Homo sapiens: one gene and its partners. The protein of the gene in region 1 interacts with the protein of each later gene in a pairwise test. Each region holds a gene or a part of one and is shown on either strand. Other genes may lie near its edges.

Region 1 (3,500 bases):
CGTGATTCACCCACCTCGGCCTCCCAAAGTGCTGGGATTATAGGCGTGAGCCACCGCGCCCGGCCCTGACCCTGTCTTAAAAAATAAATAAAAAACAAAAAACCAGTAAGACATTTACTCGCTTCCTCCAGCTCAGGGTCCTGGGTGGCCAGAGCCCGTCCTGGCAGGGCCAAAAGCAGGAATGGACCCTGGACAGAACGCCATCCCATCACAGGGCGCACACGGGCCCACACTCACTCACACTGGGCCCACGGAGACCCGGGAGCTCACCCAGCGGACACATCCCAAGGATGCACAAGGAAAGGAGAGCCCAGAGGAACTTGCACCAGCACAGGGAGAACCCACAACCACCACCCAGACAATGGTCCCGGGAATCATTATTTTTTCCTCATCAATGTCACAACAAAATGTTATTCCAGGACCGGCATACTGTGTGGCAGGCGTTTTCTACAGCCTTCTTGTTTTACCTTTCCAGCCTCACAGAAGGCTGTAATTCCAGGTGGAAACAGGGGCTCTGAGGTTAAGAAGAACCCATCCAAGGCACCCTCAGCACGGGACTGTCTTTCACACCCCAGCAGGTCCAGATAGGAGGGTGGGTGGGGTGACAGCCATGGCTGTTGAGGGCCTCACGGAGGTGAGGAGCGCTGGGAATGGCGGGGGGGCCTGAGCTGAGGTCGCCCATATCTGAAGCCAAGGTGGCCCTTCCTCTGCCTGGCCCCTTGCCAGGCCTCGCCCTCATGGGTGACAACGACACGGCTTCCTGTTGCACTGTCTCCCTCTGGTGTCACCATCTGCTTTCCTCCAGTGTCCTCAGGCACAGCAGGGCCGGCCACACAGCAGAGGCTCATGGAAGGGGCCGATGACTGCAGGAGACGGGCAGGTGTGTGTGAGAGACAGAGTGGGAAGAGACCCCTGCCCGTGGGTCCTTCATGGCAGCACTACCAGCGGCGCAGGTGCAGAGCCACCGCCTGGGTCCAGATCCGCCCCAGCACTTACCAGTGTGGGACCTGGGCCAATGGCTGAATACCTGTGCCTCAGTTTCCTCATGTAAAAAAGAGGGTCATTTTGTTTGTTTTTGAGATAGGGTCTCATTCTGTCACCCAGGCTGGAGTGCAATGGCACGATCTTGGCTCACTGCAGCCTCTACCTCCTGGGTTCAGGTGATCCTCCTACCTCTGCCTCCCAAGTAGCTGGGACTACAGGTGTGAGCCACTGCGTCCAGCCCAAAGGAGGGGAATATTAATGGCAGCTACCTCCAGGATCCTCACAAGGAGTAAGGGTTGGTAAAGGCAACCTGAGTACTTCAAGGCAGTTCCGGGAGCCTTACTTATTGCATTCACAGCCTCCACATCTGTCAAACAAGGAGACGGCCCCAGCCAATGAGGGATGAAGCCCTTGGCTGGAGGAGAACCCCAGGAAGGAAGGGGGTCTGTTCTGTGGGCTCCTGTAGCCAGCACCTAGAACAGCCCGGGCGAGAGCTCGCTGCCTGGTAGCTGCGGCTCCCGTGTCACCTCCTCCCACAGCGAAGCTCCTGGAGGCAGGGCCCAGGCTGCACTCTGAGGGAACACGTCTGTGTCCACAGCAAAGCTCCCAGAGGCAGGGCCAGGCTGCACTCTGGTGGAACACGTCTGTGTCCCCACTCGCTAAGGGCTCCTTTATGTCCCTCCCTCATTCATGCCACAGACATTTCCTAGTGTCCTCCAGGAGCTCACCTACCTTGCCTGGCAGGGTTGACAGGTGCCCAAATGATGCCAACTGACAATCTGGGAAGGGCTGGGAGACTGAGTGCAAGGGGCCCGGGCAGTGCAGTGCAGAGCCTGCCCTCCAGGAGGGGGCCGGAGGTGGCAGGTATTCCAAGCAAAGGGCATGTGCCAAGGCAGGGGTGAGAGGCGGGGAAGGGAAGGGGCCCTCAGAGTGGGCTGCAGAGGGGGCATTTTCCCCTGCAGGCAAGTGCAGCCAACCTGAGGGTCAACGCAGGCCACGTTGCCTGAATGCCAGCCACAGTGGGCCACAGACTCAGTCCCTGCCCTGCTGGAGCTGGCGTTTCACCCGGGGAATGGGCAAAGGTGCAATGGCCGGCTTCACTATGCTCACAGCGACTGCCAAGAGGGAGGCAGGTGTGCTGCGAGGGTGCACTCCCACCCCTAGGAAGCACCCCGACTGTGCTGAGCCTGAGGGAAGAGGGGGAGTTCAACAGCAGGAGTGGGCTGTGAAGGCACACCAGGCCCAGGTCACAGCCAGGACGGCAGCCCCCGGAGGGGTGAGCTGGGGGAGAGAGTCAGCAGGGTCCTTCAGCCAGGCCAGGAGCGTGGAGTCTGAAGGGGTTCCAGCAAGTTCAGCTTTTCCCTTCATGAACTTCACACTGCCTGGGTTTGAATCTCGGCCCCGCCACTCACTGGCTCTGTGACCTTGGGCAGATTAGCCAACCATCCCGTGCCTCAGTTTCCCCACATGTGCCATGGGGCTAATGGCAGTACCTGCTCACAGTGGTGGTGTGACTGGCAGGTGGCAACAGCTGGATACACGGCTGTGTGACTGCTGGCCCCACTGTACCCAGCCCTGGACAGGGGCCATTCAGATCCTGGCTGAACTGAAAAGGGCTGTGGGGAATCACAGCAAAAGGGAGGGGCCGAGGAGGAGCAGGAGGCAGGGAAGAAAGGGCGGAGGAGGAAGGGAGAAGCCTCCACCCACCTCATCACAGCGAGACCTGGTGGTGTCCATGCCCATGTCACTGCAAAAGCTCTTCAGAGGTTAGGGGTTTATCTTTCTTAAAAACAGAAGGGGCTGGGCGCGGGGGCTCTTGCCTGTAATCCCAGCACTTTGGGAAGCCAAGGCGGGAGGATCACTTGAGGTTAGGAGTTTGAGACCAGCCTGGCCAACATGGCAAAACCCTGTCTCTACTGAAAATACAAAAATTAGCCGGGCGTGGTGGCGCACGCCTATAATCCCAGCTATTCAGGAGGCTGAGCCACCAGGATCGCTTGAACCCGGGAGGCAGAGGTTTCAGTGAGCTGAGATCACACCAACACATTCCAGCCTGGGTGACAGAGCGAGACTCAGTCACAAAACAAAACAAAACAAAACAAAACAAAACAAAACAGAAGGGCTGGCCAGACAGAGACTCTCCCATTCATATGAATCTGCCAGAGCCCAGCCCAGAGCCGGTGCATTTCTGGGGCTCCCCACGCCTGCCTCTGCTGAGTTTACACACAGACCGGATGAAAGGAAAGGTGGAAGGGAAGTCTTATCAGTGTCGGTGCTAATGACATCCACCACACAGGAAGGATCAATCAGACACAAAGCAGAGTTCCTGGAAATGAACAAATATGGTGGCCAAAATCAACACTTTTTAACAAGGGAACTGAATAACAGAGAAACCTGTAAGACAGATAACACCTCCCAGAAGAAAAACAGGAGGGAGGAAAAAATGAGAGAAAAGCTACAGGATGCTTGGAAGAGATGCAGGAAGTCTAATATTCCCTGTGGTGCCTACAGGACAT
Region 2 (3,500 bases), on another chromosome or scaffold:
ACGATTTGTTGTCATATCTGTGATACTATATGTTATTTATGATTTTTCTTCAAATCATTTTAACTTAAATTTGAAAAGAAAACTCTTTCTAAGCATAATTTATCTGTGAAACCAAAAGTTTAATGTGCTATTTTTCTTTTTTTTTTTTTTCCTCTCCAGACGGAGTCTTGCTCTGTCATCCAGGCTGGAGTGCAGTGGCGCTATCTTGGCTCACTGCAACCTCCGCCTCCTGGATTCAAGTGATTCTCCTGCCTCAGCCTCCTGAGTAGCTAGGATTATAGGTGCCTGCCACCACACCCAGCTAATTTTTGTATTTTTAGTAGAGACGGGATTTCACCATGTTAGCCAGGCTAGTCTTGAACTCCTGACCTCAAGTGATCCGCCTGCCTTGGCCTCCGAAAATGCTGGGATTACAGGTGTAAGCCACCATGCCCAGCCTATTTTTCCAATAATTAACTAAATATGCTACTATTCAAATTTTTTTAAAGGCTTGTCCACTTGCCACCTCAAAATGGTCCCATATACTGCCAGTGGAGTAGGGATCACAGTTTGGGAAACACTGTTCTAAGTTCTGAGAGTCTCTGAATGATTTTAAATAAGGGAATGCCATGTTCAGAACTGTTTTTCAGAAAACTCAAGATGGTGGCTTTAAGTAGAATACATTATTTGAGAAGCATCAGAAGCAAATATACAGGTTAGAAGCCATTGCAATAGTCTAGATAAAATATGATATTTTTATGACATCGGTTACTAGAGATGCTGCAGTGGAATGACAGAAAAGATTAGGAAACAATATTTAGGAGGTTAAAATAATTAAAAGTTCAGGTTTGACTAGATTCAGAATGTGAGAGAGAAGAAATCAAAGATGATTCACAGACCAACTGAGATAAGACCTTCGAAAGAAAAAGCAGATTTGGGAGGAAATATGAGTCTAGTTAACAGTTTCTGGAAGACAGTATTCCCTTAACTTGTCATCATTCAAGGAGTTCTTAGAGTTGGGGAGAATTTCATTTCCAACTACCTTTAAAGGACAAATTTTAAAATCAAGGGTCTTGGCATTTAAAAACAAGGCAAAACAAAACCAAAACAAATAAACAAAAAAGACTGGAAGAAATGTTAGCAGGGGCCTTTGATTCTTTTTTTCTCCTGTTTTTTTGTGTCCTCTAAAATATCTTTAAGATACTACTATTCTTTAATCAGAAAATGCAAAAAGGAAGAAGAAACTTTTTTCTATTTTCAGATGTAGAGACAGAAGAAAATCTTTTTCCAAAATTCTCATAACCAGGTGCAGTGGCTCATGCCTGTAATCCTAGCACTTTGGGAGGCTGAGGTGGGTGGATCTCTTGAGGTCAAGAGTTCAAGACCAGCCTGGCCAACATGGTGAAACCCCGTCTCTACTAAAAATACAAAAATTAGCCAGGCATGGTGGAGCACGCCTGTAATCCTAGCTACTCAGGAGGCTGAGATGCAAGAATCACTTGAACTTGGGAGATGGAGATTGCAGTGAGCCAAGATAACGCCATTGCACTCCAGTCTGGGCAACATAGTAAGACTCCGTCTCCAAAAAAAAAAAAAAATTCTTATAACCAGAATTAAAAGCCTCTTTCACTTGCTCTTATGACCCTTTACCACACTAGCAGTCGGTAAGCTTTTATTATACCACATTAAGGTCAATTGCATTTATCTGTTTACTCAAATACTTTAAAAGCCACTTAAAAGTAAGGACCGTGGTCCTGATTCCCATATGCCCACCTCCTAGCAGTATGTTTGGCACGTGGCATCTATCAAGAACCACTTTTGGAATAAATGCACACAGTAAGCACTATTCACCTTTCCTACCAATTGAAATTCATAGTGTACCCTCAGGACTCATTATATTAGGATCTTCTTAGAAAACCATTATTGTGTTACAGGTTAAATCAAAATTCAGATTAGATTAAACAAATGATTTATTTTCCTACCTCATTCCCATTACACATTCATAAAGGAATATGATTCCTTCTTTCTGATGTGGTCGAAGATGATATACAAGGTAAGGATCAATCACTACATCCACAAGAGGGAAACAGTTCTTATTGAATACCCACTGGTGATTCTTATCTGGTCGTGGCATAACGAGGGAATCTTAAAAAATGATAAAAGTACAAGTATTGTAATTTCACTTTTTCAGCAACCAACATTATCTTGTTTTCATTACCCTAAGATAGAAATGTTTGCCATCATTTGTGGCCAAAAAAGTCCAAAATTTAGTCACAGTAATGTTACCCAAGGGCACAAAATTTAAAAAGAAAATCTCATGCCTTACTGATGAACGATTTCATGCAAAGAATTACGAAGAGCCTTCCAAACTTCATATACCCAAAAGTGCTTCGAAAGCAATGAAATTCACTATTGTCTAGTAAGGAATTCAATAAGCCACAACATTGAATAGTTCAGTATTCAGAGCAAAGAGAACTATTTCCAACTGAAAGTACAGGTTGGAATTTTGCCAAGATGCATTTGCCAATGTTCACAGCTTCTCATTCTGAAAAGTCTCCCCAAATTTAACATACAGGCTTTCTATCTTTTCAGTCCTAAACACACTAACAATGATCATTACTCCTATTAATTAGAACTGAGAAAAAATGATAAATTCTCCATTGACTTAGCCACCATTATTTGCTTGAAGTTAATTACTACATTCATGAATGTCAAGTTCATAAAGCTTTTTTTTCTGGGGACAGAGTATCACTCTGTTGCCCAGGGTGGAGTGCAGTGGTGTGATCTCAGCTCACTGCAACCTCCGCCTCCCAGGTTCAAGCAATTCTCGTGCCTCAGCCTCCCAAGTACCTGGGATTACAGGTTCGCGCCACCACACCCGGCTAATTTTTGTATTTTTAACAGAGGCAAGGTTTCACCATGTTAGCCAGGCTGGTCACGAACTCCTGACCTCAAGTGATCTGCCCACCTCAGCCTCCCAAAGTGCTGGGATTAAAGGCATGAGCCACTGCACCCAGCCTCATGAACCTCTTTAAAGCAGCATGAAGTCATCATAGAATAACAATGTAATTCTTCAAAACTATGCTAACACAATTTAAAAGATTTACTAAAATATCACCCAAAAAGGCAAAATCAAATATAACTAGAAGGCAGGTCTCAATTGATAAATCTGAAATTAGATAATAAACCCACCAAAATTATTTTGGGGATATATTTGCATGCCTACATCATGTTTATAAAAATTGAATTAGATAAAAAAAGAAAAAAGAATGAGGAGATGAGAAGAGGAGATAAAAAGAAATAGACTCCAGTAGACTATGTAAATATTCATCAGTGTGGAACTATACTGTCACAGGAATAAGAGTTTAGTCATGTTTACCATTAACAAATACCCAGAGGGTAAGTTTTCTCTGGATCTTCCTAGGTTTCTGAGTAACTGAAATGAACTTTCATCTTTGAGGTCAATTCCTGTTAGGTAGGAGACTAGGAAGTAAAAATGGGAAATGTAGTCCTTGGCTTTC
Region 3 (3,500 bases), on another chromosome or scaffold:
TTAAAAACTGTGTATATGTAGGGATAGAAGAATGAAAAGTTCCCAAAGATTAAGGGTAATTAGAATAGATTATTACTTTAAAACCTAGCTGATTATTTCACTTCATTTTATTATTATTATTTTTTTAGAGATGGGGTCTCGCTCTGTCACCTAGGCTAGAGTGCAGTGGCATGGTCATAGCCGACTGCAGCCTTGCTGGGCTCAAGTGACCCCTCCCTTAGCCTGCCAAGTAGCCAGCACTACAGGTATGACCCACCTCACCTGGCCTGAATTATTTTAATAATATTTTGAAGCTCTCCAAATTTTTTTTTTTTTTTTCTGTCTGAGACAGAGTCTTGTTCTCTTGCCCAGGCTGGAGTGCAGTGGCGCGATCTCGGCTCACTGCAACTTCTGCCTCCCGGGTTCAGTCGATTCTCCTGCCTCAGCCTCCCAAGTAGCTGGGATTACAGGCGTACACCACCATGCCCACCTAATTTTTGTATTTTAATAGAGACACAGTTTCACCTTGTTGGCCAGGCAGGTCTAGAACTCCTGACCTCAGGTGACCTGCCCGCCTCGGCCTCCCAAAGTGCTGGGATTACAGGCGTGAGCCCCCGCACCTGGCCCTAAATGTTTTAATAGACTTTAGCCCATAATTAAACCTCCTGCCTAACGGGCTCCTGTGAAGAGGGACTAGCACAGTAGGGGCCTTCTTAAACTCAGAACTAGTTACAGCTTGTAAATACTGAAGAGTGTATGTGAAATGTGCAGGGATGGGAGCTGAACAGTTAGTGGAACTAATGCTTTGACGGGGTTGGGTGATGAATGACCGAATCATAGCAATAGGAAAACTTGTAGTATATTTTATTAATCATGAAAAATGCCTGGCGTAACTGAAACAAATCCAGCAGATCCATTTGGTCTAAATTTAAATTTTAGCGTAGATTTGTTTTTCAGCCACAGGGTCAGTTTTCTGTTTTGAAATAGACTTGGGTTTCTGTTCCAAGGGTGTATTAGGAAAGACACGTTCCTTTTCCAGCCATCTCATTCAGTTAGTGACAAAGTTAATGTAATTCCAGTGATTTGTGGCTTTTCTTTGTTGACTGTCCTCATACCTACAATAGCACATACCTGTTATTAGCTTGGAATTGAATTTCTCTGAACAATAATAGTACCCTCCCTCTAGGTGATCTGTTCTCATTAGTCACATCTGTTGCCTGTTTCATTTTTCTGAGTTTCTGTATTTGGGGTTCCAGGTCTGATATTAGAAACTTTTAAAGGGGAAAACAGGCAACAGAAATGAGCAGATATGTAGAGCTTCGTGTCTGGTTGGACTTTGGGATTTTCCCCTGTAGGTTAAAATTTTTTTAATTTTAATTTTTATTTTTTGAGACGGAGTCTTGCTTTGTTGCCCAGGCTGGAGTGCAGTGGTGTGATCTTGGCTAACTGCAAGCTCCGCCTCCCGGGTTCACGCCATTCTCCTGCCTCAGCCTTCCGAGTAGCTGGGACTACAGGCGCCCGCCACCACGCCTGGCTAATTTTTTGTATTTTTAGTAGAGACGGGGTTTCACCGTGTCAGCCAGGATGGTCTTGATCTGACCTTGTGATCTGCCCGCCTCAGCCTCCCAAAGTGCTGGGATTATAGGCATGAGCCACCGCGCCCAGCCAGGTTAAAGTTTTTAAATTTGCACATTGAAATTTTCTACTAAACCTGAAAATGTGGTGCTTGCGATTTAACCATCACTAGTTTTACTACCAGAAAAGTCACTTGAAATGTCTGTTTAAATGGGTGAATATGTTATAAATGCAGATTTTGTTTCATATTGAATTCTCAAGGCAATGTTGAACCAAAGATTGAAAAGTAGGAGAAACATTCTTCTTAGGAAATCGCAGTTGTTGCAGAGAGTATGTATTTGGAGGCGGGGACTAAAGGCACCAACAAATGTGCTTAACTTACTATGTCATTTCTACCCGAGCATGGTTACAAACCATTCCATCTTGTACGCATGACCTCGGTTCTTACATAATTTCACAGACCCTTAGCTGTGAAACGGGTACAGTACCAACCCCATCGGGTTGAGAAGGGTGTGTAAAGCACTCAGGAGAGTGTCAGGATTATAGTCAGTGTGCAAAAAAAGTTACTAAGGAGAGGTTCCTCAATTTTCTCTGTTCACAATGCTTTTAGTGTCTCGGTAATTTTTTTCATGGCATCTCTAGGCTAAAAGGAATACTTAAAAATTCCATTTATTAAGTAGTTAGATTCCAGTAATTTATTAAATATTATGTCCTAACAAGAGCTGTTTGAAAAAAAATATATATAAGTTGGAAGAAAAAAATATTTTCATCATTCTTCCTAATTGCAGCAGTGTGCTACGTGGGGGGCAGGCCCTGCGGGAGCTCTGTGGCACCTCTCACCTGAAGGTCGGATTGGACGCTGCTTCTCCCTTTGGTTTTTTTTTTTTCTTCTTCTTTTTGGTGGTACTTGCTTTTTATCAGAGCAGCCACCCTGTTTTGCGACGATAATGATGTCATCGAAAGAAGTGGAGCCCTGATCTGATGTTGACACTGTGAATACCTTGTGTGGGGTTCCTACACCACAAGCATTGCTGTTTCCCTCATAAATTTAAAATATCTCTTGGTGCCTCTCTGCGTAGTGTGTGGGAAGCCTAGGTACACAGTTTGGGAACCCGTGCTGTTAGTGTTATTAGCCCAACTCCAGGGTGGATTTGAACTGATACTTTAGAATTGAAAAGCTTCCTTTCTTTTCAGCTCACACACCTACTTTACTACAAGATGTGTTTCTGAAGAGTTTCTAGTAAGTTCTTTATGCAAATGAAATGGAAAGGTCTGATTTTCTTTTTTTTTTTCTTTTTTTCTTAAGTGCTGATGAATCTCTGAAATAATCAAGTATGATACAGCTTGGGCAACATAGGGAATTCCTATCTCTACAAAAATGAAAATAAAAAAGTTAGCCAGGTGTGGTGGTGTGCGCTTGTACTCCCAGCTACTTGGGAGGCCGAGGCGGGAGGATCACTTGGACCTGGGACGTCAAGGCTGCAGTGATCTGTGATTGTACCTCACACTGCAACCTGGGTGACAGAGCAAGACCTGGTCTCAGAAAAAAAAATAAAGGCTGGGCGCAGTGACTCATGGCCATAATCCCAGCACTTTGGGAGGCCAAGGTGGGTGGATCATGAGGTCAAGAGATTGAGACCACCCTGGCCAACATGGTGAAACCCCGTCTCTACTAAAAATACAAAAATTAGCTGGGCGTGGTGGCTCGCGTCTGTAGTCCCAGCTACTCGGGAGGTTGAGGCAGGAGAATTGCTTGAATCTGGGAGGCGGAGGTTGCAGTGAGCCGAGATCATGCCACTGCACTCCAGCCTGGCGTGAGACTCCGTCTCAAAAAAAAAAAAAAAAAAGTATGTCGGGCATAACACATGAACCAGTCTTTCCTTAGAGAGTTTTTGCTGTGTGCTTCCACCAGAGGCCTGCCAACTGACAGTGTGATTGTGTGGCTC

What was found. The genes of interacting proteins can lie anywhere in the genome.
Region 2: the proteins of TRAPPC6A (region 1) and RAD54B interact in a two-hybrid assay, tested with the Homo sapiens proteins (one large-scale study listed by BioGRID and IntAct).
Region 3: the proteins of TRAPPC6A (region 1) and TRAPPC10 interact in a two-hybrid assay, tested with the Homo sapiens proteins (one study listed by BioGRID).

Annotation. Positions count from the first base shown.
Region 1 is NC_000019.10:45,168,238-45,171,737, forward strand, and holds part of TRAPPC6A (trafficking protein particle complex subunit 6A), read right to left. Parts: intron 1-3,500. UniProt on the Homo sapiens protein: May play a role in vesicular transport during the biogenesis of melanosomes.
Region 2 is NC_000008.11:94,402,116-94,405,615, forward strand, and holds part of RAD54B (DNA repair and recombination protein RAD54B), read right to left. Parts: intron 2,125-3,500; coding exon 1,962-2,124; intron 1-1,961. UniProt on the Homo sapiens protein: Involved in DNA repair and mitotic recombination. May play an active role in recombination processes in concert with other members of the RAD52 epistasis group.
Region 3 is NC_000021.9:44,015,309-44,018,808, forward strand, and holds part of TRAPPC10 (trafficking protein particle complex subunit 10), read left to right. Parts: intron 1-3,500. UniProt on the Homo sapiens protein: Specific subunit of the TRAPP (transport protein particle) II complex, a highly conserved vesicle tethering complex that functions in late Golgi trafficking as a membrane tether.